Linked DNA regions of Homo sapiens: all the other regions are linked to region 3. Evidence: fine-mapped expression QTL. A gene starts in region 3. Each other region holds a variant in brackets. All regions are shown on one strand. Distances are between the middles of the regions.

Region 1 (8,000 bases), 86 kb before region 3:
GGCTGGTCTTGAACTCCTGGGCTTCAAGCAATCCACCCACCCTGGTCTCCCAAAGTGCTGGAATTACAGATGTCAGCCACTGCGCCCGGCCCCATTTCTTATATCTCTTTAATCTGACCATTACTGTCACCTGCACACAATGAGTGTACATGAGTGGTCAAGGAGGACAACTTACGCCTTCTGCCTTCTTTAAACAGGCAGATAAAGACACATGAGTGCTCTCTCAGGTCAAGGACAATGTACCTACTGGACAGACACAAAAATGACAGAACTTGGCCAGGCGCAATGGCTCAAGCCTGTAGTCCCAGTACTTTGGGATGCTAAGGTAGGTAGATTGCTTGAGCTCAGGAGTTTGAGACCAGCATGGGTGATGGCAAAATCCCATCTCTACCGAAAAATACAAAAATTAACAGGGCGTGGTGGCACGAGCCTGTAGTCCCATCTATATGGAGGGCTAAGGTGGGAGGATCGCTTGAGCCTGGGAGGCGGTGGTTTCAGTGAGCTGAGATGGCACCACTGCACTCCAGCCAGGGTGAGAGAGAGAAACCCTGTCTCAAAAAAAAAAGTAAAATAAAAATGATAGAACACTGCAACTTGGGCCTTAAACTCAGCAGAAAGTTAACTCTATTTGTAAATGTTTTTTCCTCTTAAAAACTGGCTGGGCGCGATGGCTCATGCCTGTAATCCCAGTACTTTGGGAGGCCGAGATGGGTGGATCTCCTGACATCAGTAGTTTGAGACAAGCCTGGCCAACATGATGAAACCCTGTCTCTACTAAAAATACAAAAATTAGCCAGGCCTAGTGGTTGTGTGCCTGTAATGTCAGCTACTCGGGAGGCTGAGGCAGGAGAATTGCTTCAAACCGGGAGGCGGAGGTTGTGCTGAGCCGAGATCACGTCACCGCACTGCAGCCTGGGCGCGGTGGCTCACACCTGTAATTCTCAGCACTTTGGGAGGCCCAGGTGAGCAGAGCACGACGTCAGGAGGTCCAGACCATCCTGGCTAACACGGTGAAACCCCATCTCTACTAAAAATACAAAAAAAGTTAGTCTGGGCCTGGTGGGTCACGCCTGTAATCTCAGCACTTTGGGAGGCCGAGGCAGGCAGACCATGAGGTCAGGAGATTGAGACTATCCTGGCTAACACGGTGAAACCCCATCTCTACTAAAAATCCAAAAAAAAAAAAAAAAAAAAAAAAATTAGCCGGGCATGGTGGCCGGCGCCTGTAGTCCCAGCTACTCGGGAGGCTGAGGCAGGAAATTGGCATGAACCCAGGAGGTGGAGCTTGCAGTGAGCTGAGATCGCACCACTGCACTCCAGCCTGGGCGAGACTCCATCTCAAAAAAGAAAACAACAAACAAAACAAACAAACAGAAAAACTTATATGTGAGTTATAAAAAACATAGTTCCTGGGCTGGGCACAGTGGCTCGTGCCTGTAATCCCAGCACTTTGGGAGGCCAAGGCGGGCGGATCACAAGGTCAGGAGATCGAGACCATCCTGGCTAACAAGGTGAAACCCCGTCTCTACTAAAAATACAAAAAAAAAAAAAAAAATTAGCTGGTCGTGGTGGCAGGCGCCTGTAATGCCAGCTACTCAGGAGGCTGAGGCAGGAGAATGGCATGAACCAGGGAGGCAGAGCGTGCAGTGAGCCGAGATTAAGCCACTGCACTCCAGTCTGGGCAACAGAGTGAGACTTCGTCTCAAAAAACAAAAAAACAAAAAAAACAAAAAAAAACAACTTAGTTCCAAAGCTCTTTGTAGTTGTGATTCCAAAATCTTAAAAGCTAATCTGAAAACCAATAGTTTTCTTGTAAGTTTCTGGCAAATTTGTTTAGTGGAAAAACTTGCTCTAACTTACCATGAGGACCCCACTTCAAGATGTTATATATGATATCTATACTATGTACCATATCACGCTTCAATTTTTTTTTTCAATTCAAATTTCTAGGCACACTTGGCACAAAGGTTCTGGATAAAGAATTTTTACTACTACTTCAACACAAGACTTTACACTTAATATAGGAGAACCTTAATTTACCATGATTCATAACCTACCCAATAAGCCAGATAATATTCTGAAAGGCTAATCACATAGAGGCCAGCAGAGGTGGCTCTCACCTGTAATCCCAGCACTTTGAGAGACTGAGGCGGGCAGATCATGAGGTCAGAAGATGGAGACCATCCTGGCTAACATGGTGAAACCTCGTCTCTACTTTTTTAATTTATTGACTTACTTTTATTTATTTTTTTTGAGATGGAGTATTGCTCTGTCTCCCAGGCTGGAGTGCAGTGGTGCAATCTCGGCTGCAACCTCCACCTTCTGGGTTCACGCCATTCTCATGCCTCAGCCTCCCAAGTAGCTGGGACTACAGGTGCCCGCCACCACACCTGGCTAAATTTTTTTGTATTTTTAGTAGGGACGGTGTTTCACCGTGTTAGCCAGGATGATCTCCATCTCCTGACCTTGTGATCCGCCCGCCTCGGTCTCCCAAATGCTGAGATTACAGGTGTTGAGCCACTGCGCTCGGCCAACCCTGTCTCTACTAAAACTACAAAAAATTAGCCAGGTGTGGTGGCATGCGCCTGTAGTCACAGCTACTCGGGAGGCTGAGTCAGGAGAATCATCTGAACCCACAAGGCAGAGGTTGCAGTGAGCCGAAATCACGCTACTGCACTCCTGCCTGGGCAACAGAGCAAGACTCCATCTCAAAAAAAAAAAAAGAAGAATCACATAAAGCAAAACACAAATGAATTAATCTAAAGCACAAGACCTAACTCTGCAAACCATTATTTTATTATTTTGATTGCAATGTTTTCTTACCAATAGTTTGAGTAGGTTTAACTGAACCAGGCTTGTTTTCCTGATGGAGACTCTCTGAATTTCTAGTGGCAAGAGGTTTGGCAATAGGAGCCGTAGATTTATCATTGGTCTCTCCTGTCCAACGAAGAGTGAACTGCAACGTAGGTCCCTGAGAAAATGTTTCGAATGGAGGCAGCCTCTAAAAAATAAAAAACATGCAAAGACTGGAGACTCAGATAATGAATTCAAATAAATTGTAGAAATTAAAAAAAATTCATTATAAGTCAATGTGGATTTGCCTTAATAGATTTGTCTTGAAAATCCAAATGCTGACTGAGACGGCTAGGCAAACAAAGTAAAAGTATGGACCAGACACTGTAGAACTTGAACTGGAGAGCACAGGCTGTCTAAAAGAGGCGACCACTGATCAGCAACAGGTGAATTGTTGCCATGTGAAAACACTCGTCCAACACAGACAGATTTTCAGATTTTTCCAAATAGGTCAGAAATCAAAGTTATCATGGGAAAATTTCCCATTTAGGTTGTTGCTAACCAGTTCAAATGTCTTTTTTTTTTTTTGAGATGGAGTTTCACTCTTGTCGCCCAGGCTAGTGTGCAACTGGCATGGTCTCAGCTCACTGCAACCTCCCCCTCCCAGGTTCAAGCAATTCTCCTGTCTCAGCCTCCCAAGTAGCTGGGATTACAGGCACCTGC[C/T]GTCACGCCCAGCTAATTTTTTGTGTGTGTGTTTTTAGTAGAGACGGGGTTTCATCATCTTGGCCAGGCTGGTCTTGAACTCCTGACCTCAGGTGATTTGCCTGCCTCGGCCTCCCAAAGTGCTGGGGTTACAGGCATGAGCCACCACGCCTGGCCTTGAAATGTCTTAAAAATAAAATTGTGGTACCCAAAGCCCACCAGCATGCAACCTTTGCTCTTAGGTGACCAATTACTTTTTTTTTTGTAAATTGAACAGCTTTTCAATTAGTAATTTTCTTTGACTTCTCTCAGTTTCACTGACAATGACTGCCAGTGCTTCCCTTCTTTGATTTTACAACACTGAGCTATTGAAAATAGCTAACTTTTAGCCATCTGACCGAATCACTCAACCATCCTCAAGAATTTACCTATTAAGCTGATGATCCCAAATTGGTTCTGCATTCTTATCCTTACACTTGAACTGTAAACTCGTATCTCCAATTGCCTCTTGGACACTGCCAGTTGATCTCAATGTCACCTTGAACTAAAACATGTTTAGAAGTGTATCCAGTATCTTTTCTTCTAAAACACTTTCCTTCTCACGTTATTTTTGTTCTTGTCATTATCATTCTACTAGTGACCCTAAGCTAAAAATTTTGGAATTATATTTGACTCCTATCCTTTCGTTTCTCATGCAATTACCAAGTCCTTTTTAAAATGTTTATCATTTCTTCCTTGTCCTTCAAGGATCACAAAAAAACAAAAAAACAAAAAAACCTTTGTTATAGATCAGTATTGCCTTACTACTAGAGTATCTCAGTTGTTCTACTTGCTTCTGATTTTTACTTTCCTATTCAAATATAGGAGAGATCAAGTAGTCTTCAATGAGCTTCAATTTATTTTACTGCCACAGAGGCCTAAACTCCTTCTATATCATTATTACAAAGTAATCCTCTTAAAACTATTTAGATTAGAGGACCGGGCGCAATGGCACACGCCTGTAATCCCAGCACTTTGGGAGGCCGAGGAGGGCAGATCGTGAGGTCAGGAGTTCGAGACCATCCTGGACAACATGGTGAAACCCCGTCTCTACTAAAATACAAAAAATTAGCTGGGCATGGTGGCTGGCGCCTGTAATCCCAGCTACTTGGGAGGCTGAGGCAGGAGAATCGCTTGAACTCGAAAGGCAGAGGTTGCAGTGAGCCGAAATTGCACCATTGCACTCCAGCCTGGAGACAGAGCAAGACTCCATCTCAAAAAACAAAACAAAACAAAACAAAAAACTACTTAGACTAGAATGTAGTAAAAGTGTGTTCAGAGACTAGTTTGGACACAGCAGTCCACAGGAATTTATCTTATAAAATACTTGATACAGGTTCAAGTATAATCACTATTAACATTTTTGACAAGATTAAAAAAAATCAAATAACCCAATTATCTATTAGACCAGCACTGGTTTAGTCAATTAAGGAACCCAAACAAAACAAAACAAAACAAAAAATCTCAGAACTTTTAAAAAGAAGTAAATCTATATGCTCTGACTTAAAAGGATGCCCATTTTACAGGGTTAAGAGCTTCCAGATAGGCCGGGCACAGTAGCTCACACCTGTAATCCCAGCACTTTGGGATGCCGAAGTGGGTGGAAAACCTTAGGTCAGGAGTTTGAGACCAGCCAAGACAACATGGTGAAACCCCCAGGCCTGGTGGCGCATGCCAGTAATCTCAACTATTCAGGAGGCTGAGGCAAGAGAATTGCTTGAACCCAGGAGGCAGAGGTTGCAGTGAACTGAGACCGCGCCATTGCACTCCACCTCTGGGTGACAGAGCGAGACTCCATCTCAACAGAAACAAACAAAAAAAGGCCAGGCCGGGCACGGTCGCTCATGCCTGTAATCCCAGTACTTTGGGAGGCCGAGGCGGGTGGATCACAAGGTCAGGAGTTCGAGACCAGCCTGGCCAACATGGTGAAACTCCATCTCTACTAAAAATATGAAAATCAGCTGGGCATGGTGGTGCACACCTGTGATCGCAGCTACTCAGGAGGCTGAGGCTGGAGAATCGCTTGAACCCGGGAGGCGGAGGTTGCAGTGAGCCAAGATCATGCCACTGTACTCCAGCCTGGGTGACAGAGTGAAACTCCATCTCAAAAACAAAACAAACAAAAAAAAAACAAAAACAAAACCAACAACAACAAAAACTCTTCATATATATAATCCTTATAGTCTCATGAATAAAAACATACTTTAAAACAAGAAATTTAAAATGAAAAAGATCATAAAGATAAATCCATGCAGAAAACCCAAACAGTATAGATAAAAATTATTTGAAATCTCATCACCTGGAGTTAACCACTATTATAAATTTTAGAAACAGGGAAAATATATATATATATATGTATACAGTTATGTAAAAATTTAATATGGAAATCTTGTAAACTATCATCCTTTTTAATAGCTTTTTAGATTTAACATGTTTCTAATGTTTCATTATTTAAAAAATGCTGAGAAAACCTGTTACCTACATCTTTTGTTAACAAGTTACTACACTGTGACAAAAATATAAAATTTGAATTGTTAAAGACTATATATACAATTTTAACTTTATATATATTGCCAGTCTGCCCTATAGTAAGACTGTATCAACCTTTTTTTTTTTTTTTTTTTTTTTGAGACAGAGTCTTGCTCTGTTTCCCCGGATAAAGTGAAGTGGCAAAATCTCAGCTCACTGAAACCTCTGCCTCCCAGGTTCAAGTAATACTCCTAAACCTCCCAAGTACCCAAGTAGCTGGGACTACAAGCACCTGCCACCATGCCTGGCTAATTTTTGTGTTTTTGGTAGAGATGTGGTTTGACATGTTGGCCAGGCTGGTGTCAAATTCATAACCTCAGGTGATCCACCCGCCTTGGCTTCCCAAAGTGCTGGGATTACAGGCATGAGCCACTGAGCCCGGCCCCAACTTACTGTTACATCAAAATATTATTTGAGAGTATATGTGTCCTCACGTCCCTAAAACACTAGAAACTGTCAAACTTTTAATCTTTGTCGAACTCTCAAAAGTATCTCTGCATTTGCATGCCTTTGAGTACTAATAAGGTTGAGTACTGCTTTAAAAGTCTGCTGGCCATCTATATTTGTTTTTTTAAGAACTGCGTGAGAGTCCTTGACACATATTTCTTATTAGACTGCGTATCTTTTTCTTGTTTTATAATTCACAATATTATGTATTCATATTAGCATTTTGTGTTACAGATACTTCCCCCATTCCATAATTTGTTTGTAACTTTAGATATTTTGCAGTATAAAAATGACTAATTTTAACCCGACAATTTTTACTTTATGCTTTCTTACTTTTCAATCATCCTTAGAAAGGTCTTCCTCACTGCAGTATATTAACATTCACCTATTTTTTTTCCATGCTTATGAATGTTCATTTTTACATGTTTATGAGCCTTGCAGAATGTATTAGGTCTAAGATTATTTCCAGATGACTGGAGAAGAGTTGTCACAATTAATGAACAGTTTCTCTTTCTCACATAGCTATACCACCACCTTTATCATGAACTAAATTTCAAATATACATCAAACTATTTCAGGACTATGCCTGAATGATATGCTTGAATGATATGCTTGTCTATTCCTATGCTTATACCATAGGGTTTAAGTTCTCTTAACTTTATGGTATGTACTACTGTATATCGTATATCATACTAAAACTGGTAAGTAAAAATTCTCAAAATATTTTTCTAAAATTTCCCTTAGTATTACTAAATACTTATCCTTCTAGATTGACTTGGAACTAATTTTAAGGCTTAAAAAAATCCTTATGAGATTTTGCATTGGATGGTAACACTGATCTAACATATTTAGAAATAAAAGACATCGTTACAGTTTTGAATCTACCTATTTAAGAAATGCATGGATTCCTCTTTATCTCTTAAAAGAGTTATCTTAAGTACGCTTAATCTAAATTCTGCAGATTTCTTGATAAATGTATTACTAGTCATCCCTTATTACCTGCCATTACAATGAATAGAATTTAAAATAGCCGTTAACATTTATTGAGCACTTATTGTATGCCAGGCACTGTACTAAATATTTTATTATTTCATCTAATCCATCAATTCTATGTCTCATGTTACAGGAGAAGAAACTGAGACATGGATAAGTAACTTGCCAAACGCCACATAGCTAGGAGCAGACATTTGAATCAGGCAGTCTGGCTCTCAAAGTATGATGCCTTCCGTGTGGCCGGGTGCAGTGGCTCATGCCTGTAATCCCAGCGCTTTGGGAGGCCAAGGTGGGCAGATCACAAGGTCAGGAGTTCCAGACTAGCCTGGCCAACATGGTCAAACCCCGTCTCTACTGAAAATAAAAAAAAATTAGCCAGGCGTGGTGGCACGCAGAATCACAGAATCACAGCTACTTGGGAGGCTGAGACAGGAGAATCGCTTGAACCCGGGAGGTGGAGGTTGCAGTGAGCCGAGACCATGCCACTGCACTCCAGC
Region 2 (10,698 bases), 160 kb before region 3:
AAAAATTAGCCAGGCATGGTGTTGCATGCCTGTGGTCCCAGCTACTTGGAAGGCTGAGGTGAGAAGATCACTTGAGCCTGGGAGGTCCAGGCTGCAGTGAGCCGAAATCATGCCATTGCTCTCTAGCCACGCTGAGTGACAGAGCAAGACCATGTCTTTAAAAAAAAAAAATAAGTTGGCCAGGCGTGGTGGCTCATGCCTGTAATCCCAGCACTTTGGGAGGCCGAGGCAGGCGGATCATCTGAGATCAGGAGTTTGAGACCAGCCTGGCCAACATGGGGAAAGCCCGTCTCTCCTAAAAACACAAAAATTAGGGGACGTGGTGGCAGGCGCCTGTAATCCCAGCTACTCAGGAGGCTGAGGCAGGAGAATCACTTGAACCTGGGAGGCGGAGGTTGCAGCGAGCCTTGATTGCGCCATTGCACTCCAGTTGGGAGACAAGAGCAAGACTTCATCTCAAAAAAAAAAAAAAAAGTGAATATAATAACATCACGTTCACAGGTTGCAGGGGCCAGAATGTGGACACATCCTTTTTGGGGGCCACCATTTGACACACTATATTCCCTCCTGGAGCTGCAGCCCTGGCCGTGAAAGGAAAGGAGAGGAAAGCAAGAAGGAAGGGGCCCCTGCACTACCCAGACCCCCAGAACATGATGCTGGTGGGGATGGAGGAGAGGCAGAAGGAAATAGGATTGAAGTCTAAATCAAGGCCCCAGCCTGGGTCTGGACATTCCTTGTTTTGAATTGAAGCCAAGCTGCCCTGTGACTAAGGCAACTCCAGGAACATCTGTTATCTGAGATGAACAGAGAACAAAGTCATAAAGCTAAGATTTTATCAAGGGGATTGTGGGGCAGGGGGGACACGTTTCCCTGTGAAAAGCACGTTATAGAGATCATGAGAGATCAGCCCTTGACTGAATTCACACAATGCTGGTTCATTTCATCACAGGGACCACCTGACCCCCAGGATTGTTCTAGAAGGTCTTTTTCTCTAACATCTCCACACCAATCCCTCTCCACCTGCCGCTCCCACCTTCCACTGGGTCCCCATCCTCCTCTGGGCTGGGGCCCTGCCTGCCTGCCATCCATTCACTCAACAAACACTTATTATTATTTTTTGAAACACAGTCTCGCTCTGATGCCCATGCTGGAGTGCAGTGGCATGATCACTGCTCACTGCAGCCTCTGCCTCCCAGGTTTAAGCAATTCTCATTTCTCAGCCTCTCGAGTAGTTGGGATTACAGGCATGCATCACCACACCTGGATAATTTTTGTATTTTTAGTAAAGACGGGGTTTTGCCATGTTGGCCAGGCTGGTCTTGAACTCCTGGGCTCAAATCTGTCCGCTCGGCCTCTCAAAGTGCTGGTAGTTACAGGCGTGAGCCACTGCGCCCAGCCCTAACACTTATTGAGCACCTGCTGTATGCCAAGGGCCAGGGAAGGGGGCAGCATACAGAGCCAGGAGAGAACAGTGTGGAGGAACTTCCCTTTTGGAGCTGACTTTCCAGTGGGAGACCTGGGCGATGACAAGATGAACAAGGAGTGAATATTCTGTGGTGTAGCCAAAAGTAGCCAGTGCAATGGAGAAAATACAGCAGCCTCAGGCCTGTAATCCCAGCACTTTGGTAGGCCGAGGCGGGCGGATCACTTGAGGCTAGGAGTTCAAAACCAGCCTGGTCAGCATGGCAAAACCCCGTCTCTACTAAAAATACAAAAATTAGCCAGGTGTCATGGAGCATGCCTGTAATCCCAGCTACTGAGTAGACTGAGGCAGGAGAATCACTTGAACTCGGAGGTGGAGGTTGCAGTGAGCTGAGAGCACACCACTGCACTCCAGCCTGAGCAACACAGCGAGACCCTGTCTCAAAAAAAAAAAAAAAAAGCAGCAATAAGAGTCTGTGGATGTTGTAAATTGGGTGTGTGTGCATCAGAGAAGGCTTCCCTGGGGAGGGGCACAAGTGAAGGGAGACCTGGAGGAGGTGAGGGAGGAGCCATGTGGATATCTGGGGGAGGATGACTCAGGCAGAGGGAACAGCCTGTGCAAAGGCCCTGAGGCAGGATGTCTTTGGTGAGTTTGGAGAACAGTAAGGAGGCCCATCTGCTTGGAGAAAGCTGGGTTTTCTGGCCTCCGTGAGGACTGGAGTTTTGCTCTGAGTGAGGCAGTTGGTAAGGAGAATAATGCCCTCCTTCCCAAGATGTCTACTTCCTCATCCTAAACTTTCAAGATCTCGTGGCCTGGGGAGGATAGGAGAAAGGGGCTGGTAACTGCTCCAGCGGGTTGATAAATATGGGTACTTCAGGGAGGCTTCCTGGAGGAGTGTCAAGCATATGACTGGCTTGAATTGCGGGAGAGGCAGGCTGAGCAGGGAGCAGGTGCCCAGGGAGAGGCAGAGGACAGGTGAAACACTTAAAAGTGTCTAAAGGAGAAAGAGTCCTTTGGACACAGCCAGGCCCTGAGAAGCAAGGTTAGTGAATTGCTACCTCATGCAACAAAAGGGACTTTGCTGATTAGGTAATTAAGGACCTTCAGACAGGGAAATGACCTTGGATCATCTAATCACACAAGTCCTTAAAGTGCAAGGGGGCGGCAGAGGGGAGTTGAAGGCTGTCATATGAGAAGGACTTGACTCGTCATTGCTGGCTTTGAAAATGGAGGGAGGGCCCACGAGCCAAGGAATGCAGGCAACTTCTAGAAACGGGGAACAGACAACCAGCAAGAAAACAGGGGCCTCAGTTCTACAATCCCGAGGAACTGAATCTTGCACCCCTAAATGAGCAAGAAATAGATCGTCCCCTAAAACCTCCAAGAAAGGACTGCAGCCTGCTGACATCTTGGTCTTAGGCAGGTGAGACCCGAACCACATCTCTGACCTCTAGAGCTGTAGGATAATTTGCGTCGTTAAAAAAACGCTAGCTTGTGACGGCAACCATGGGAAATTAACACAAGTTGGGAGCCTTCCGGGTTCTGAGCGGGAGGAGGGGGCGTGGCCTGATCAGGTGTTCGCTCGCGCCCTCTGGAGGCTGCGGAGGGAACAGGCTTCAGGGCCAGGCTGGAGACCTGAGCAAGGGTAGAGGGAACTGCACAGTCCAGGTGAGGGATGCTGGGCTGGACCAGGTGAGGGCCGGGGAGGTGGGGAAGAAATGAAGTCCGAGGTTTGAACGTGGATGGAAAGAGAAAAAAAGAGAGAACTCCAGCGGGGCGCGGTGGCTCACGCCTGTAATCCCAGCACTTTGGGAGGCCAAGGTGGGAGAATCACTTGAGGTCAGGAGTTCGAGACCAGCCTGGCCAACACAGTGAAACCCCGTCTGTACCAAAAATACAAAAAATAGCCAGGCGTGGTGCTGCACGCCTCTAGTCCCAGCTACTCGGGAGGCTGAGACAGCAGACTTGCTCGAACCCGGGAGGCGGAGGTTGCAGTGAGCCAAGACTATGCCATTGCACTCTAGCCTGGGCGACAGAGTAAGACTCCATCTAAAAAAAAAAAGAGAGAGAGGACTCCAGTCAAGGATGACCAGAAGCCTCTGAGCTGGGAACTTGGAGTCTCCCATTCCCTCCACCCCAACTCCACTAGTCCCTACCTCCCCTTGGCCTCACCTGCTAGCAGTTGTCCCAGGCGGAGGCCACATGCTTCCCTCTCCTCTGAGGCCTTGCCCCTGCCTGTGACCTCTCACTTGTCACATCTGCTGTCTCTGTTCTCAAGACAGGAAGTCAGATGGGAGTTGAAGACGGCTGGGACCTATGAGTCCCCAGGCCCCCAGAGGGATTCCGGATTTGAGAGTCGGCCTCCTCCCTCCCATCCAAGCCCAGCCCTGCCAAATCAGCTCCCAGCGCACTCCCTGGTCTGCACTTCTTTCTCTGTCTCTTTCTCTCTCTGGAATTTTCATTCTCTTTTTGGTAACCGAATTATCCCATCTCCGCCTCTCACTGGGGGCCACCCACAGAGGCGTGGGAGAGGAGGGGCCCAGGTCGCAGCGCGAGATATTAAACCATCAATCACCCGCCAACGCCGACTCCCCCGCACCAGGACCCTCCGTTGGCTCCACCTGGAAGCAGACCAGCTCCAGTGCAGGCCTGGAGGCCTGGGGACCCCATCAAAATGGGAGGCCTTGGAAGAATCTCACAGGCCCTGCATCCACCTGGGCAGGTGCCTGGGTGCAGATCGGCCTGGCTCAATGCACAGAAAGGTGTCCTGGGTTCAAATCTACAAGCTACTTCTTATCCACACATGGGAGCCACTGCATTGCTCTGTGTCTTGGTTTCTCCACCTGTAAAATGGTGATAACAGCCGGGCACGGTGGCTCACGCCTGTAATCCCAGCACTTTGGGAGGCTGAGGCGGGCAGATCACCTGAGGTCAGGACTTCGAGACCAGCCTGGCCAACATGGCAAAACTCCATCTCTACTAAAAATATAAAAATTAGCCAGGTGTGGTGGCGTGCCCCTGTAATGCCAGCTACTTGGAAGGCTGAAGCAGGAGAATCACCTGAACCCAGGAGTCAGAAGTTGCAGTGAACCGAGATTGTACTACCACACTCCAGCCTGGGGGACAGAGCGAGACTCTGTATTAAAAAAAAAAAAATGGTGGTAACATTTTCTACATCACTGGGGTTCACTGTCAGGATTAAACCAGTTAAGGCAGATGGCAATATCTGGCTGATAGTAACTCCTGTCTAGGATTTGCTGCTAGAATGATTTTCCTTTAAGATTGGGGGGGTCATTCACTTGTGAAGGAAATCCAAGATTCTTGGCTTTTGGGGGGACTTAATGGGGTTCATACTTGTGTCACCTCACAGCTGCTGCCTTGTATAGGTTGGAATTGGATTTTTTTTTTTTTTTTTTGAGATGGAGTCTTGCTCTGTCGCCCAGGCTAGAGTGCAGTGCACGATCTCGGCTCACTGCAACCTCCGCCTCCCAGGTTCAAGGAATTCTCCTGCCTCAGCCTCCTGAGTAGCTGGGACTACAGGCACATGCCACCACACCCAGCTAATTTTTTTTTATTTTTAGTAGAGACGGGGTTTCACCATCTTGGCCAGGCTGGTCTCGAACTCCTGACCTTGTGATCCAGCTGCCTCGGCCTCCCAAAGTGCTAGGATTACAGGCATGAGCCACTGCGCCTGGCCGGAATTGGATTTTTTTGTTTTTTGTTTTTGAGACAAAGTCTTGCTCTGTCACCCAGGCTGAAGTGCCGTGTGGTATGATCATGGCTCATTGCAGCCTCAACCTTCTGGACTTAAGTGATCCTCCCACCTCAGCCTCTTGAGTAGTTAGGATCACAGGCATGAGCCGCCACACCCAGGTCTAGGGGAAAAAAAATTAAAGGCTCTTTCAGAACCTTAACTAGGGCCAAGCAACCCATATTTCAAGGCGCTCAATTCACAAAACAAGGTCTCAGTGCTTTGCACAGGCTGTTCCCCCTGCCTAAAATGCTGTTCCCTCAGCCAGCCACGTGACTCCTCCTTGCCTGCTTCTGGGTTTGCTGCAATGTCACCTCCTCAGTGAGGTCACTTTGTAAAAATTGCACCCAGGGCCCCTGCCCGCCCCCACCCCTCCCAGCTGTATGTCCCTCCATAGCATGCACCCCATTTTGCATACCGTATGCAGTGCTTGTGGGGTTTGCCTGTTCATCCCACTGGAGTGTTAACCCCAGAGCAAGGTTCATTCATTCACTGCCCAGCATGGCACCTGGCATGAAATAAACACCCAGTAAATACTTGTTGAGTGAAAGCATGAACAAATTCCATTCAGCTGCTCCCAGAGGACCCCACAGGCTGCAGCCAGCTCAAAGCTGCTGTAGCTGGGCCTGTCAGCAATCTTGGGTTTCCTGGAG[G/C]GGGGTGGAGGGGGTATCACTGGATGTGTTCAGAGATGCAGCTGGTTCACTGTCAACTTTGTGTGGACTTTTCTTTTTTTTTTGAGGCTGGATCTCACTCTGTCACACAGGCTGGTGTGCAGTGGCGTGATCACAGCTCACTGCAGCCTCCACTCCAGCTATCCTCCCACCTCAGCCCCCTGAGTAGCTGGGACCACAGTTGTGCGCCACCATGCCTGGGTAATTTTTGTATTTTTCATAGAGACAGGGATTCACCATGTTGCCCAAGCTGGTCTTGAACTCCTGAGCTCAAGCAATCTGCCTGCCTAGGCCTCTCAAAGCAGTGGGATTACAGGCGTGAGCCACAACGCCCGGCCAGGATGTTTATTTTGTCATTATTTATTTATTGTAGAGATGGTGGTCTCCCTATGCTGCTTAGGCTGGTCTTCAGGTCCTGGGCGATCCTTCCGTCTTGGCCTCCCAAAGTGCTGGGATTACAGGCATGAGCCATGGTGCCCGGCCTTGTGTAGATCTTTAAAAGGTACCCCTTCCTTGCTGGGTGCCGTGGCTCATGCCTGTAATCCCAACACTTTGGGAGGCTGAGGTGGGCAGCTCACCTGAGGTCAGGAGTTCGAGACCAGCCTGGCCAACATGGTGAAACCTCGTCTCTATTAAAAATACAAAAATTAGCTGGGCGTGGTGGCGGGTGCCTGTAATCTCAGCTACTGGGGAGGCTGAGGCAGGAGAATTTCTGGAACCTGGGAGGCAGAGGTTTCAGTGAGCTGAGATCGTGCCATTGCACTCCAGCCCAGGCAATAACAGTGAGACTCCATCTCAAAAAATAAAATAAATAAAATAAAATAAAATAAAATAAAAGGTACCTCTTCCTCTGGGCAGATGCAATGTGTGGTGAGGGGAACAGATGATGTTAGCTTCTGCTCTAGCCTCTGTCTGGCATGCTTGTGCAGTGCGCAACTTGCACAACTGTTCTTGGCAGTACTGCTACTGTCCCCCATCTCTTGAGTAGCTCAGAAGGTGGGGGGCGCTGTGAAGACCAAGTAACCAGAGGCTGGACCTCTACACCCAGGTGTTTAGAGGGCCAAACCCCAACCTCTGTGCCCAGCTCATTGCTGGTGAAAAATCTGCCAAGGAACTGGACTGTTCTGGTGACACCCCAAAGACTCCCCTCCTGGTATCCCCAGCAGTGTCTCCCTTGCTCCTCCGGACTAGTGGTGCGGTGCCCTCGCCTTCCCCAGCCCCCTCTGCACGTTTCCACCCAGCCAGGAGTCCCACACTTGCCTGCTTCTCCCAACTCTCTCTCTCTCTCTCTCTCTCTCTCTCTCTCTCTCTCTCTCTCTCTCTCTCTCTCCAGCACAGTGGCTATTTTTATTTTTCCTTCTTATTAAATTTCCAACTTCTGCAAACACCATGGCCTCTGCCTCGCCGCGCCCCCCCACCTTCCCTTAGGGCGGATTTGATTCACTTGCGTTTTATTAACAGATTAAAAAAAAAAAAAACCCGCAGCTGCCACCACAATGTGACTTTCTCCGCTTTCCTGGAGGTTTAGGGAACTGGGCTACAGGATCCCCTCCGGGTTTAAATTTGCCCTCCTCCCCACTCCCAGGGACCTTCCCATCACAGCCTGAGCGGCGAGGTCGGGAAGGGGCTGGGGAGTGAGGTTGGATCTCGTTCTGGGTTTAGGGGGGACTGGGATGGGTGTCAGGCCTGATGCGGTTCCCCCAGCCAGGGACTCGTCCCAAGGCGGAACTGGAAATTAAAAAAAAAAAAAAAAAAAAAGCAATCCGTTGGGAAGCCCCGCCCCCGCCTCGCCCCCCACCCCAGACCCTGGGTGCTAAACGCTTCGGGTGGGAGGGGCAGCCTCGGGGGTGGGGGCTTAGAGTTGGCGCCTCCCACACAGAGCTGGGGTCGCCCCTACCCTCTCTCTCTTAGGATGGCTGGCAGGGGGCCTTGGGAAGGTTTGCCACCTACCCAAGCCCGGCTCGCTCAGTTTTCTTTCCTCCTTAGGACATTCTGATTCCGGTGCTGACTCCCAGACCTGAGAGCAAATTGCTTCTTCATGCCCCGGGGTGTTTTCCTCCCCTCAAGTCTTTTTTTTTTTGTCAGTCGCCATGGCAACCAAGAACCCAGCTGCACTATACTTCCCTGGGATACAGGATGGGGGTAGGGGGTGATGGCGAAACTAACTGGGTCGTTTAGGCCAGGACCTTCCTACCCTCCTCTTTGCCCCCTCTCTTAGTCCTCCACCCCTTCCCCACACCACCTGGTCCAGCCTTGATTGACAAGAGGGCAGGTTGCGCCTGTCGGGGTTACCCATCTTGGTGGTTGGGCCACAGCTTCCTTCTGGGTCACTCTGTTCTGGGAAGGTCCTTCATTTGGCCCGAGGACTAAGGCTCCAGCTGTCAGTGAAATCCCTTTCCCCTTCCTTTCCTCCACTCTTTAGTCCCTCAGTCAGGGTGGGCTGGTACGGTTGGGCAGGTTGGACACTGCACAAGGGGACACTGAGTGTGTTCAAACTAAGCTCCCGATTTCCATTGCTCCCTTACTCCATAGCACACTACAGACTAACCTCTCCTCTGCCTTACTGACACCAACTCTCTGTTTGCTATCAGGAGAGCCAATGATTTCAATAAAATACTTCAGTCCTGGTCACACCCCAATGCAGAGCTGAAGAAAGGAAGTCCAATCGGGAATTTGGGGCCTTGAACAACCCAAGCCACAGCTCCTGTGGGAGCTTAGAGAGAGTGCAAACCTGGGCAGAAAGAACTTCTACAGAGGGCCGGGCGCGGTGGCTCATGCCTGTAATCCAGCACTTTGGGAGGCCGAGACGGGCGGATCACGAGGACAGGAGATCGAGACCATCCTGGCTAACACAGTGAAACCCCGTCTCTACTAAAAATACAAAAAATTAGCCGGGCGTGGTGGTGGGCGCCTGTAGTCCCAGGTGTTCGGGAGACTGAGGCAGGAGAATGGCGTGAACCCGGGAGGAGGAGCTTGCAGTGAGCCGAGATCGCGCCACTGCACTCCAGCCTGGGTGACAAAGCGAGACTCCGTCTCAAAAAAAAAGAACTTCTACAGGGGCCAAAGCTAGGGTCGAGGACCATAGAATGCCTTGGGGTACCCAGGGAGGGGCAGGGAATGATTATCAAAAGCCCCAAAGGAATCATGGGGCTGGTCAAGTTGGCTTCACGGACCCAATTCTACCGCCCACCATCTATACTCTTTGCCTAGGTAGCTCCTCCCACTGGGAGGTGGAGCCTACTTCCACACCCCTTGAATCTGGGTTGGTCTCGTGATCTCCTTTGGCCAATCAATGGATTGCAGCAGAAGTGAAGTCACTTCCCAATCTAGGCCTGAAGAGGTGGTACATCTTTCTGGTCGACGTCTGGAAACCCTGCCCCTGTCAGGTGACCAAGCCCGAGCTAGCCTGCTGGAGGATGAGGGAAGAATCCTGTTGTCCTAGACCAGCCTATAGCCAGCCGGGCCCAAATATACGAAAAGACCCAGCCTGAATAAATACAGTGTGACTCTTGGACCCATAGACGCTGGTGGGTGAGCCCAGCCAGGAGCAGAAAAACTGCCCTGTAGCCTGCGAAGCCAAAATTAATGCTGATTGTCCTAAGCTGCTGGATTTGGGCGTTGTTAGGCAGCTTTTTTTTTTTTTTTTTTTTTTTTTGGCTCAGTCTCACTTTGTGGCCCAGGCTGGAATGTAGTGGTGCAATCTTGGCTCACTGCAGCCTCTGCCTCCCTCCCGGGTTCAAGCGATTCTCCTGCCTCGGCCTCCTGAGTAGCTGGGATTACGGACACCCGCCACCACGACTGACTAATTTTTGTATTTTTAGTAGAGACGAGGTTTTGCCATGTTGGCCAGGTTGGTCTCAAACTTGTGGCCTCAAGTGATCCACCTGCCTGGCCTCTCAAAGTGCTGGGATTACAGGCATGAGCCACTGTGCCTGGCCTTTGTTAGACAGCTTAACTGGCAACAGGTAACTGACAAGGAGCCTGGCAGGCACAGGTGTGCATTGGTCAGCACGTCCCCTTGCCCACGAAGGAGCTAGACTCAAATCCCGGGGTCCCTGAAATTGATTGTCAACTCTTTAACTTCCTGAGGAATCCTTCCCCATTTTTCCTTTATTTGTTTCTTTTTTGTTTGTGTTTTGGCATGGCCTTCCAATGAAATTCCCCATTTTTCCTTTTTCTTTCTTTCTTTTTTTTTTTTTTTTTTGAGACGGAGTCTCGCTTTGTTGCCCAGGCTGGATTGCAAAGTGGCGCGATCTCGGCTCACTGCAGCCTCTGCCTCCCAGGCTCAAGCGTTTCTCCTGCCTCAGCCTCCCGAGTAGCTGGGATTACATGTACCACCATGCCCCACTAATTTTTGTATTTTTAATAGAGACGGTGTTCCGCCTTGTTGGCCGGGCTGGTCTCTAACTGCTGACCTCGGGTGATCCGCCCGCCTTGGCCTCCCAAAGTGATGGGATTACAAGCGTGAGCCACCGTGCCCAGCCCCCCATGTTTTCTTTCCTTGATATATCTCTGATTGCACCTCCTCTCCTCTCTCTCTCACTTCCGTCCAGCCACATCAGCCTCCTAGCTGATCTCTACTTCTCCATGCTAGTTCCCACCCCAGAGTCTTGGCACCCGCTGTTCCTCCTGTCTGGAACCTTCTTCCCCCAGATCTCTATGTGTATCCTCCGCTTTTTCTCCTTCAGGTCTCTGTTCATGTGCCTGATCCTCTGAGGTGCCCTCCTTAACTCAGAGAGATACGTCTCCTTCCAGGCCCTCACCAACCTACTACTACTGCTCCCAATGGGAGCCACATCATGTCCAGCCTAGGACGCTAAAGTTGACCCAGGGCTCAGATGGGAGCAGAACAG
Region 3 (10,698 bases):
CTGCCTCAGCCCCCTGAGTAGCTGGGATTACAGGCGCACGCCACCATACACGGTTAATTTTTATATTTTTAGTAGAGATGGGGTGTCACCATGTTGGTCAGGTTGGTCTCAAACTCTTGACCTCAGGTGATCCACTGGCCTCGGGCTCCCAAAGGGCTGGGATTACAGGCTTGAGTCAGCGCACCTGGCCAGGATTTTGAGACATTGCGGGCTTTATGCAAACAGTTTCTTCTTCTGTCTTGGGCTTTCTCCAGTAGGTAGTTTTTTTTTTTTTTTTTTTTTTGAGGGGAGTCTCGCCTTGTTGCCTGGGTGGGAGTGCAGTGGTGCAATCTCAGGTACTATCTCTCTTTTTGAGGGCTCCTTCTATGAGTTGATATTTCAAAATATTTATGTGATGCTATTAGGTGAGTTAATACATAAAGGACTTTGGCCAGGCATGGTGGCTTATGCCTGTAATCCCAGTACTTTGGGAGGCCGAGGCAGGTGGATCACCTGAGGTCAGAAGTTCAAGACCAGCCTGGTCAACATGGTGAAACCCCGTCTGTACTAAATATACAAAAATTAGCCAGGCGTGGTGGCGGGCGCCTGTAGTCTCAGCTACTCAGGAGGCTGAGGCAGGAGAATCACTTGAACCTGGGAGGCCGAGGTTGCAGTGAGCTGAGATCATACCATTGTGCTCCAGCCTGGGCAACAAGAGCGAAACTTCGGCTCACAAAAAAAAAAACAAAAAAACATAAAGGACTTAGAACAGTGCACATAGTAGCTGGGCACACAATAAGCCCTACATAATGACAGCTTTTTTTTTTTTTTTTGAGACAGAGTCATGGGGTTTCACCATGCTGGCCATGCTGGTCTTGAACTTCTGACATTGTGATCTGCCAACCTTGGCCTCCCAAAGTGCTGGGATTACAGGCGTGAGCCACTGCGCCGGGCCAATGACAGCTATTATTATGAGATGCAGAAGTGAAAAGAAGGCTTTGTCATTTCTGTCATAATAATTCTTTTTTTTTTTGAGACAGATTCTCATTCTGTTGCCCAGGCTGGAGTGTAGTGGCACGATCTCGACTCACTGCAGTCTCTGCCTCCCGGGTTCAAGCGATTCTTGTGCTTTAGCCTCCCAAGTATTTTTTTTTTTTTTTGAGACGGAGTCTCGCTCTGTCTCCCAGGCTGGAGTGTAGTGGTGTGATCATGGCTCACTACAACTTCCGCCACCCAGGTTCTAGCAATTTTCCTGCCTCAGCCTCCAGAGTAGCTGGGATTCCCGCCACCATGTCTAGCTAATTTTTGTATTTTTAGTGGGGGGGTATTTCACCATGTTGGCCATGCTGGTTGTGAACTCCTGACCTCAGGTGATCCACCTGCCTTGGCCTCCAAAACATCATAATAATTCTTTCTTTTTTGGGACAGAGTGTCGGTCTGTCACCCAGGCTGGAGTGCAGTGGCGTGATCTTGGCTCACTGCAACCTCCATCTCCCGGGTTCAAGCGATTCTCCTGCCTCAGCCTCCCGAGTAGCTGGGACTACAGGCACGCACCACCATGCCCGGCTAATTTTTGTATTTTTGGTAGAGACGGAGGTTTCACCATGTTGGCCAGGCTGGTCTCGAACTCCTGACCTTGTGATCCACCCACCTCGGCCTCCCAAAGTGCTGGGATTACAGATGTGAGCCACTGCGCCTGGCCCATCATAATAATTCTTGAAGGTAAATATAAAAGCTAGGCAGGGCGGGGTGGCTCACATCCCAGCACTTTGGGAGGTGGAGGCGGGTGGATCGATCACAAGGTCAGGAGTTCCAGACCAGCCTGGCCAACATGGTGAAACCCCGTCTCTACCAAAAATACAAAAATTAGCTGGGCGTGGTGGCGTGCGCCTGTAGTCCCAGCTACTCAGGTGGCTGAGGCAGGAGAATCGTTTAAACGGGAAGGCGGGGGTTGCAGTGAGCCGAGATCATGCCACTGCCCTCCAGCCTGGGCAACAAACTGACACTCCGTCTCAACAACAACAACAACAACAACAACAAGAATATATACATAAACGCTAAATTTTGGCCAGGCGTGGTGGCTCATGCCTGTAATCCCAGCACTTTGGGAGGCCGAGGTGGGCGGATCACCTGAGGTTAGGAGTTCGAGACCAGCTTAGCCAACATAGTGAAACTCCGTCTCTACTAAAAAGACAATAATTAGCTGGTCGTGGTGGTGGGCGCCTGTAATCCCAGCTACTCGGGAGGCTGAGGCAGGAGAATCACTAGAATCTGGGAGGCTGAGGTTGCAGTGAGCCAAGATCACGCCACTACACTCCAGCCTGGGCAACAAGAGCAAAACTCCATCTCAAAAAAAAAAAAGCTAAATTTCAAAATAAGGGAGGATCGCTGGGCGTGCTGGCTTATGCCTGTAATCCCAGAATTTTGAGAAGGGGAAACAAGATGATCACTTGAGGCCAGGAGTTCAAGACCATGGTGACAATACAGTGAGACCCTGTCTCTATTTACAAAAACAAAAACACCATCCTCGGCAACATAGTGAGACCCCTGTCTCTACAAAAAAGAAAAAAGGAAAATTAGCCAGGTGCGGTGGGGCACACATGTAGTCCCAGCTACTTGGGAGGCGGGGGTGGGAGCATTGCTGGAGCTCAGGAGGTTGAGGCTGCAGTGAGCTGTGGTCACACCACTGCACTCCAGCCTGGGTAATATAGTAAGACCCTGTCTCAAAACAAAACAAAAACGTAATTAGGCCGGGCATGGTGGCTCACGCCTGTCATCCCAGCTACTCGGGGGATCGCTTGAACCCAGGAGGTGGAGGTTGCAGTGAGCCGAGAGCGCACCACTGCACTCCCCATTAGGCAACAGAGAGAGGCCACCAGGCCCAGCTAATTTTTTTGTATTTTTAGTGGAGACGGGGTTTCTCCATGTTGGCCACGCTGGTCTTGAATTCCTGACCTCAGGTTATCCGTGGCCTCGGCCTCCCAAAGTGCTGTGATGACAGGTGTGAGCCACAGTGCCTGGCCAGCGAGGCTCGGTCTTAAAAAGAACAACAAAACAAAACAAAACAATATAAAGGAGGAGCGTATTTATAGTTAGTTTGATTTAAAAATTGGGCGGGCGCGTTGGCTCACGCCTGGAGTCCCAGCACTTTGGGATGCTGAGGCGGGTGGATCATGAGGTCAGGAGATTGAGACCATCCTGGCCAACATGATGAAAACCTGTATGTACGAAAAACACAAAAATTAATTGGGTGTGGTGGCACGTGCCTGTAGTCCCAGCTACTCGGGCGGCTGAGGCAGGAGAATCCTTTGAACCAGGGGAGTCGAGGTTGTGGTGAGCCGAGATCGCGCCACTGCACTCCAGCCTGGTGACAGAGCGAGACTCTGTCTCTAAATAAATAAATAAAATAAAATAAAATAAAAATCATGGTTAATTTATGAAGGTCTCTATCAAATTTACTTTGAAATGATTACAGTCTGTCATAACTTGCTGACTTCCTTGTACCTAAAGAAATTTAGCAAGTACCTTTTCTTAGTGTCATGCATTTATTAACTGAGTACTTATTATATGGTAGGCACTGCTATAAGCTGTAGAGTATCTAGCCAGTCAAAAAGGAAAAAATTCCCTGCCCATATGGAGTTTACTATCTAGTGTCATCTCCACTCTTACTGTTAACACAGCCCCAGAGATTTTACTTTTACAAATAAATTCTATCTTTGTCTTACATTCGTGATTTCCTTCCACTTCTGACATGTCTTACAGCTGAAGGATTCAAGAAATGGTGTAGCACAAGCCAACCCTCGTCTCAGTTCTGAGATGAGTGGGTAAAATGTGAAAGGAAAGAAAGAAATGCAAGGCACAGAGGTGGAACATGGTTTTGCTGAGCCCATTCTCCTTTCATAAATCACACACAGGATCCAGGTGCTAATGTGAATGTTGAAATAAGCAGATTTAGCAAGAACTGCTGCTTTGGCTTTTTTATATCCAGAACTAAAAAAGAACTGAACCATGTAGTTATCATTTGAGGTTTACTAACTATACCAGCAATATTGCCTCCAAGCTGTGTTGCCTGGTGTTTCTCTTAGAAATGCTAAGTTGCTTGGGCAATGGTTTAAGGAGGGTGTCTATACCTTAGTGATTTATTTTGGTAATTCTCAAACTTTTCAATACAAAAATCTCCTTTTCTAAAAAGAATTTATAGTGTCTGATATTCACCTAGGGACATATATTTTGAAAGCTATTGCTTACAAAGACAGGATATTGATTTAAATAATAAACAATTCTATTTTATTTATTTATTTATTTAGAGACGGAGTTTCACTCTTGTTGCCCAAGCTGGAGTGCAATGGCGCGATCTCGGCCTCCCAGGTTCAAGCGATTCTCCTGCCTCAGCCTCCCGAGTAGCTGGGATTACAGGCGCGTGCCAGCACGCCCAGTTAATTTTTTTGCATTTTTAGTAGAAACGGGGTTTCATCATGTTAGCCAGGATGGTCTCGAACTCCTGACTTCAGGTGATCTGCCCGCCTCGGCCTCCTAAACTGCTGGGATTACAGGCATGAGCCACCGCGACCGGCTTTCAAAAATGTTTAATTGTACAATATCCTCCTCCTTTGCTTTTTTTTTTGTTGTTGTTCTTGGTGTTGGGAAGTCAGGACGTGGGATGGGAGACAATATTCTGAAGAAAATGCATCTCGTGTCCCTTTCAGGCTTGAGCAGCCCACCTCTCTACACCTGGAGGCGCTTTTCCTGATGGCTGTCCAAGTCTAGCGGCGCGCGCACTTAACCCCTCCCTCCCGTCTAGCCCCGCCCCTCAACTCCTGTCCGCTAGAGTCGTCCTGCCCAAGACCAGGGCGGGTTCTCGCTGCAATCCCACAATCGGCCACAGGGAGGGGACGGTGGCTGTAGAAGCCGAAGGGCCTTCCCCTAAGTAGGAGGTGGCGGAAGCGGAAAAGGCGGGACCTAGGGAGCACGTTACGTCCGGACGCGTCGGTGGTAGGGCTGGGTCTCCGAACCTGAAACCGGGAGCTTCCTGCTCGTGTTCGCTGTTGAGAAGCTACCCGCGGGGTTGTAGACCTCGGACCTCATGGCAGAGATAATTCAGGAACGCATAGAAGATCGGCTCCCGGAATTGGAACAGCTGGAGCGCATTGGACTGTTCAGTCATGCGGAGATTAAGTGAGAGAGGGTTGGGGAGAGGGAAGAGCTGAGGCGGCCTGAGGGGAGGTTGGGAGTGTGTGGCAGGGGCTAGATGTGGGGACGCTCGACCTGTGTTTACTTTTCCTAACGTGGTGGAAGCCCATTTCTCGTTTTCGGTGATGTCCAGAATTAATTTTTCATTCGTTGCAAGGTAATCCGTCCGTCTACTTACCCATCAGACGTTTTGACAGCCCTTCATGGAGCCGGGTCTTAGGGCTGTAAAGGTGATAAACCCAGGATTCCTGCTCATTAGGAGCTAATTGGGCAGAGTGTGGTGGGGGAGACAGACAAATTAAATATTTTGATAACAGTGTACTGTAAGTTGATTGTAGTACCTTGTACTGCTGTAGGGATGGGAACAGAGTGCTGTGAGAGCCCAGGGGGAGTGGATAAATTCCTAACTAGACTTGAAGGTGGGGACCATTGAAATCAGTTTCATATGCTACTCCAGAGCCTAACTACAGCGCCTGGCACATGGTAGACATTCAGTAGCGTGTTAAAATTATGTTTAATAGTTTTTAATGGTTTCTGTGACTGTTGCTTTGTTTTGCAACGTCTGAATGTAGTAATGTGACTCAGAGCTTCAAAGTAAGCATTCGTTAATGAAACACAAAACAAAGCAGTGTGGACGCTTAGAAAGTGCTCAGTTAAGGTTAATGTTACCATTACTAAAGACACCTGTCTTGCACATCTTGCATTAAATTCTCCTAATATATATTTGTCATATGTTCATTCCTTAGCTAAGGACTCTGAATCTTCTCCCGTAAGTCCTTCGTAGTAATAAGTCTTTTAAGGCAGACGCAATTTAGATTTTTAAAAAAATTTACATGTTGAGAACTCAGAAATAAGAGGAATTTCGGAAAGAAATTTATTATTAAAATTTAAGTGACCTGAACTTGGAGTAAAAGAAGTCTTTATTAATACCAGCCAGGCGCTGTGGCTCACGCCTGTAATCCCAGCACTTTGGGAGGCCGAGGTGGGTGGATCACGAGGTCAGGAGTTCGAGACCAGCCTGGCCAATATGGTGAAACCCCGTCTCTACTAAAAATACAAAAATTAGCTGAGCGTGGTGGTGAGCGCCTGTAGTCCCAGCTACTCGGGAGTCTGAGGCAGGAGAATCGCTTGAACTCGGGAGGCCGAGGTTGTAGTGAGCCAAGATCATGCCACTGCACTCCAGCCTGGGCGACAGAGCGAGAAAAAAACAAACAAAAAAAACACCATACATAAATGGTATAAAGTTCTTAATTGTATTTGCTTTGCTGGTGGGAATGTCATTGGTTTTGGGAGTTGATTAAGATGATTTTCCTGAAAGTTTAAAAATGAACCCTTAAGAACACAAAAGTAATTGTGTAAGAGAATACTTTTTTTTTTTGAGATGGAGTCTTGCTCTGTCGCCAGGCCAGAGGGCAGTGGCGCGATCTCGGCTTACTGCAACCTCCGCCTTCCAGGTTCAAGCAATTTTCCTGCCTCAGTCTCCCGAGTAGCTGGGACTACAGGCACGCACCACCACGCCCAGCTAATTTTTGTATTTTTAGTAGAGATGCAGTTTTACCATGTTGACCAGGGTGGTCTCAGTCTCTTGACCTCTTGATCTACCCGCCTCAGCCTCCCAAAGTGCTGGGATTCCAGGCATGAGCCACTGTGTCCGGCCGATAATACTTTCTTATGAAAGATAACTCTAGGAATTTCGTATTTTGAAAAACATGTTTTAAATATATTCAAAATAAACTTAAACGTTTAATTTTTGCAGTTTTCAAGTGAAGTTTAAATGGCTTTCTCCTCAGGGCTATCATTAAGAAGGCTTCCGATCTAGAGTACAAAATCCAGAGAAGAACCCTTTTCAAGGAAGACTTTATCAATTATGTTCAAGTAAGTGTGTAATTAATAATTTCTTTCTTTTTTTCTTTTTTGTTTTTTGGTGAGATGGCATCTCACTCTGTCACCCAGGTTGGAGTGCAGTGGTGTGAATGGTGTGATCTCTGCTCACTGCAACCTCTGCCCTCCAGGCTCAAGCGATTCTCCTACCTCAGCCTCCTGGGTAGCTGGGACCATAGATGCATGCCACCATGCCTGGCTAATTTTTTGGTAGAGACTGGGTTTTGCCACATTGCCCAGGCTGATCTCAAGGGATCCACCCACCTTGGCCTCTCAAAGTGCTGGGCTTACAGGTGTGAACCACAGTGCCCGGCCAATAATTAATAATTTCATTACTTTTTTTTGAGGCAGGGGCTCGCCTTTCACCCAGGCTGAAGTGCAGTGGTGCCATCATGGCTCAGTGTAGCTTCCACCTCCTGAGCTGAAGCCATCCTCCCACCTCAGCCTCTGGAGTAGCTGGGACTACAGGTGTGTGCCAGTATGGCTGGCTAGCTTTTGTGTTTTTTGTAGAGACAGGGTTTCGGCATGTTGCCCACGCCCAAAATGCTGGGATTACAAGTGTTTGTGAGCCACCGGGCCCAGCCTTACTTTTTTTATTTTTGTTTTTGAGACAAGAGTCTTGCTCTGTCACCCAGGCTGGAGTGCAGTGGCGCGATCTTGGCTCACTGCAACCACTGCCTTCCGGGTTCTAGTGATTCTCAAGTCTCATCCTCCTCAGTAACTGGGATTACAGGCGTATGGCACCGCACCCAGCTACTTTTAGTAGAGACTGGGTTTTGCCATGTTGGCTAGGCTGGTCTCGAACTCCTGGCCTCAAGCAATCCACCAGCATCGGCCTCCCAAAGCGAGTGCTATGATTACAGGCATGAGGCATCATGCTCGGTCCTAGCCTTACTTTTTAATCCCTTCACAAATTGATTGATTGGTTGATTAATTGAAATAGAGTCTCTCTGTGTCACCCAGGCTGGAGTGCAGTTGCACAGTCTCTGCTCACGCTCACCGCAACCTCCGCCTCCTGGGTTCAAGTGATTCTCCTGCCTCAGCCTCCCATTCCTTCACAAATTTAAAATCAGTTCTAGAATGATGAGCTTAACATCAAATTTTTTTTTTTTTTGAGATGGAGTTTCACTCTTATTGCCCAGGCTGGAGTGCAGTGGTGCGATCTCGGCTCACTGCAACCTCCGCTTCCTGGGTTCAAGCAGTTATCTGCCTCAGCCTCCTGAGTAGCTGGGATTACAGGTGCCCACAACCACGCCAGGCTAATTTTTGTAGAGACAGCGTTTCACCATCTTGACCAGGCTGGTCTTGAACTCCTGACCTGGTGATCCACCCGCCTCGGCCTCCCAAAGTGCTGGAATTACAGGCATGAGCCACCACGCCCGGCCAACATCAGTTTTTTAAAAAAATTAAAAGAATTCCAGAAACGTTCATTAGATAGATATTTCTGAACAGGAGTAGCATTGGGAGTAGCATTACTCCACTAAGACTGTAGTCCTGGCCAAACTGAACTTACTTTTCCCCTCCTCTTTCTCTCTTGTCGTTTTCTTTCTTTTTTTTTTCTACTGGGTTTGTAGATCAGAGATTGTCAGAGACATAGTGTGTATCAGGACTTCAGCAAGAGATTTGCCTCTTGGTGAGCAAGATAGAGGAGAGTGAATGTGATGAGTGTAGAGAATTGAAAAGTTACTGCTTGTTTATCTATTGTCTGTCCACTTGGAAAGAGGTGTACTGCAAGATTTTTTCATCTTGTAAATGCATGGAAGGTTTGAATAAAGAAAAATTATGTCAGACCAATTTTCCAGTGGGGGAGAATAGCTAATATGTTGGATGACGGAATCAGGATTCAGAAAGAACCAATAACAAGATCACATGTTTATAAGACTAGAAGTTTTGGTTGGGCATGGTGGCTCATGCTGTAATACCAGCACTTTGGGAGGCTGAGGCAGGCAGATCACCTGTGGTCAGGAGTTCGAGACCAGCCTGGCCAACATGGTGAAACCCCCATCTCTACTAAAAATACAAAAATTAGCCGGGTGTGGTGTTGGGTGCCTGTAATCCTAGCTACTCAGGGGCTGAGGCAGGAGAATTGCTTGAACCCAGGAGGTGGAGGTTGCAGTGAGCCAAGATTGTGCCATTGCACTCCCAGCCTGGGAGACAAGAGCGAAACTCCATCTCAAAAAAAAAAAAAAAAAAAAAGACTAGAAGTTTTGAGCTTAGATTTAAAAAGACAAAAGACAGCCGAACAAACAATATATGAACCTTGGCTAAGCTATTGTTTTTGGAAGAGGTCCTATGAGTAGATTGCTCACTCAAAATGAGCCAAGACCATATTATGTCAAAAATAGATTTTTTTTTTTCCAAATAATACACTCACTCTTGCCCAGGCTGGAGTGCAATGGTGCGAGCACTCATTGCAGCCTCGAACTTCTAGGCTCAGATGATCCTCCTGCCTCAGCCTCCCAAGTAGGTAGGACTACAGGCTTGTGCCAGATGGCTGGCTAATTTTCTTATTTTTTGTAGAGATAGGGTCTCCTTATGTTGCCCAGGCTGGTCTTGAACTCCTGGGCTCAAGTGATCCTCCTGCCTTGCCGTACCAGAGTTTTGGGAATTACAGACTTGAGCCAGTGTGCCCAGCCAAAAGATTTCTTAAAGCTAAATTAGACTGTGAAAGCACAAACCATGAGAGAAAAGACTGATTTATTTGATTGTGTTCAAAATACAAATTTCTGGAGGGGCGTGGCGGCTCACGTGTGAGACAGGCAGATCGCTTGAGCCCAGGAGTTCAAGACCAGCCTAGGCAACATGGCAAACCCCATCTCTACAAAAAATACAAAAATTAGCTGGGCATGGTGGTGCACACCTGTAGTCCCAGCTACTCTGGAGGTTGAGGTGGGAGGATCAGTTGAACCTGGGAGGTGGAAGCTGTAGTGAGCCATGATGGCGCCATTGCACTTCAGTCTGGGTGATAGAGACCCTGTCTCAAAAAAAAAAAAAATTTTTTTCTGTGCAAAAAAGACACTACAAATAATGTGAAAATACAAGCCACAAAATGTGAGAAAATATTTACAACACATAATTAGAACTACATATACACATATATAAAGAACTGTAAATCGAGAAGAAAATGAAAACTAAAAAGAAAAATGGGCAAATCATGTGAACGTGAAAGTCACAAAGGGGAAACATCACTTGTAGTTAAACTTATGAAAAGACATCAGCCTTATCAGTAATTAGTTAAATAAAGATTAAAACAAGGTGTAGGGGCCGAGCGCGGTAGCTCATGCCTGTAATCCTAGCACTTTGGGAGGCTGAGGCGGGTGGATTACTTGAGGTTGGGAGTTGGAGATCAGCCTGGTCAACATGGTGGAACCCCATCTCTACTAAAAATACAAAAATTAGCCAGGCACGGTAGCACGTACCTGTAATCCCAGCTACTGGGGAGGCTGAGGCAGGAAAACTGCTTGAATCCGGGAGGCGGAGGTTGCAGTGAGCCTAGGTTGCGCCACTGCACTTCAGCCTGGGCGACAGAGCGAGACTCCATCTCAAAAAAACAAACAATAAAAAAAAACCAGGTGTAGGACTGCTTTATATTCATTATAAGAGCAAACTTTTTTTTTTTTTTCTTTTTTGAGATGGAGTCTCGCTCCG

Direction of the effects. Alleles are on the strand shown, and positions count from the first base shown. SD is a standard deviation of normalised expression in the study named. Not every link is listed here.
For the expression in esophagus muscle of the gene that starts at base 4,982 in region 3, allele G in region 2 goes with a higher level than allele C (small effect, 0.13 SD a copy in GTEx).

Evidence for each region.
Region 1: its variant is fine-mapped to the expression of UTP6 in whole blood (INTERVAL, PIP above 0.99).
Region 2: its variant is fine-mapped to the expression of UTP6 in esophagus muscle (GTEx, PIP 0.94).

The regions. Positions count from the first base shown.
Region 1 is chr17:31,983,321-31,991,320 of GRCh38, reverse strand. SUZ12 (SUZ12 polycomb repressive complex 2 subunit) reads right to left here. Exons shown (of 16, transcript NM_015355.4): 10 at 2,824-3,001. Among named protein-coding and RNA genes, the nearest start is that of LRRC37B, 20 kb to the left of the region's middle. The variant C/T (reference allele first, on the strand shown) is at 3,517.
Region 2 is chr17:32,059,383-32,070,080 of GRCh38, reverse strand. No RefSeq gene overlaps it. Among named protein-coding and RNA genes, the nearest start is that of VILMIR, 18 kb to the left of the region's middle. The variant G/C (reference allele first, on the strand shown) is at 5,828.
Region 3 is chr17:31,895,992-31,906,689 of GRCh38, reverse strand. It overlaps UTP6 (UTP6 small subunit processome component), which reads left to right and starts at 4,982. Exons shown (of 19, transcript NM_018428.3): 1 at 4,982-5,154; 2 at 6,960-7,044. The coding sequence starts at 5,063. RefSeq lists enhancers at 4,988-5,037, 4,723-5,314, 5,358-5,507.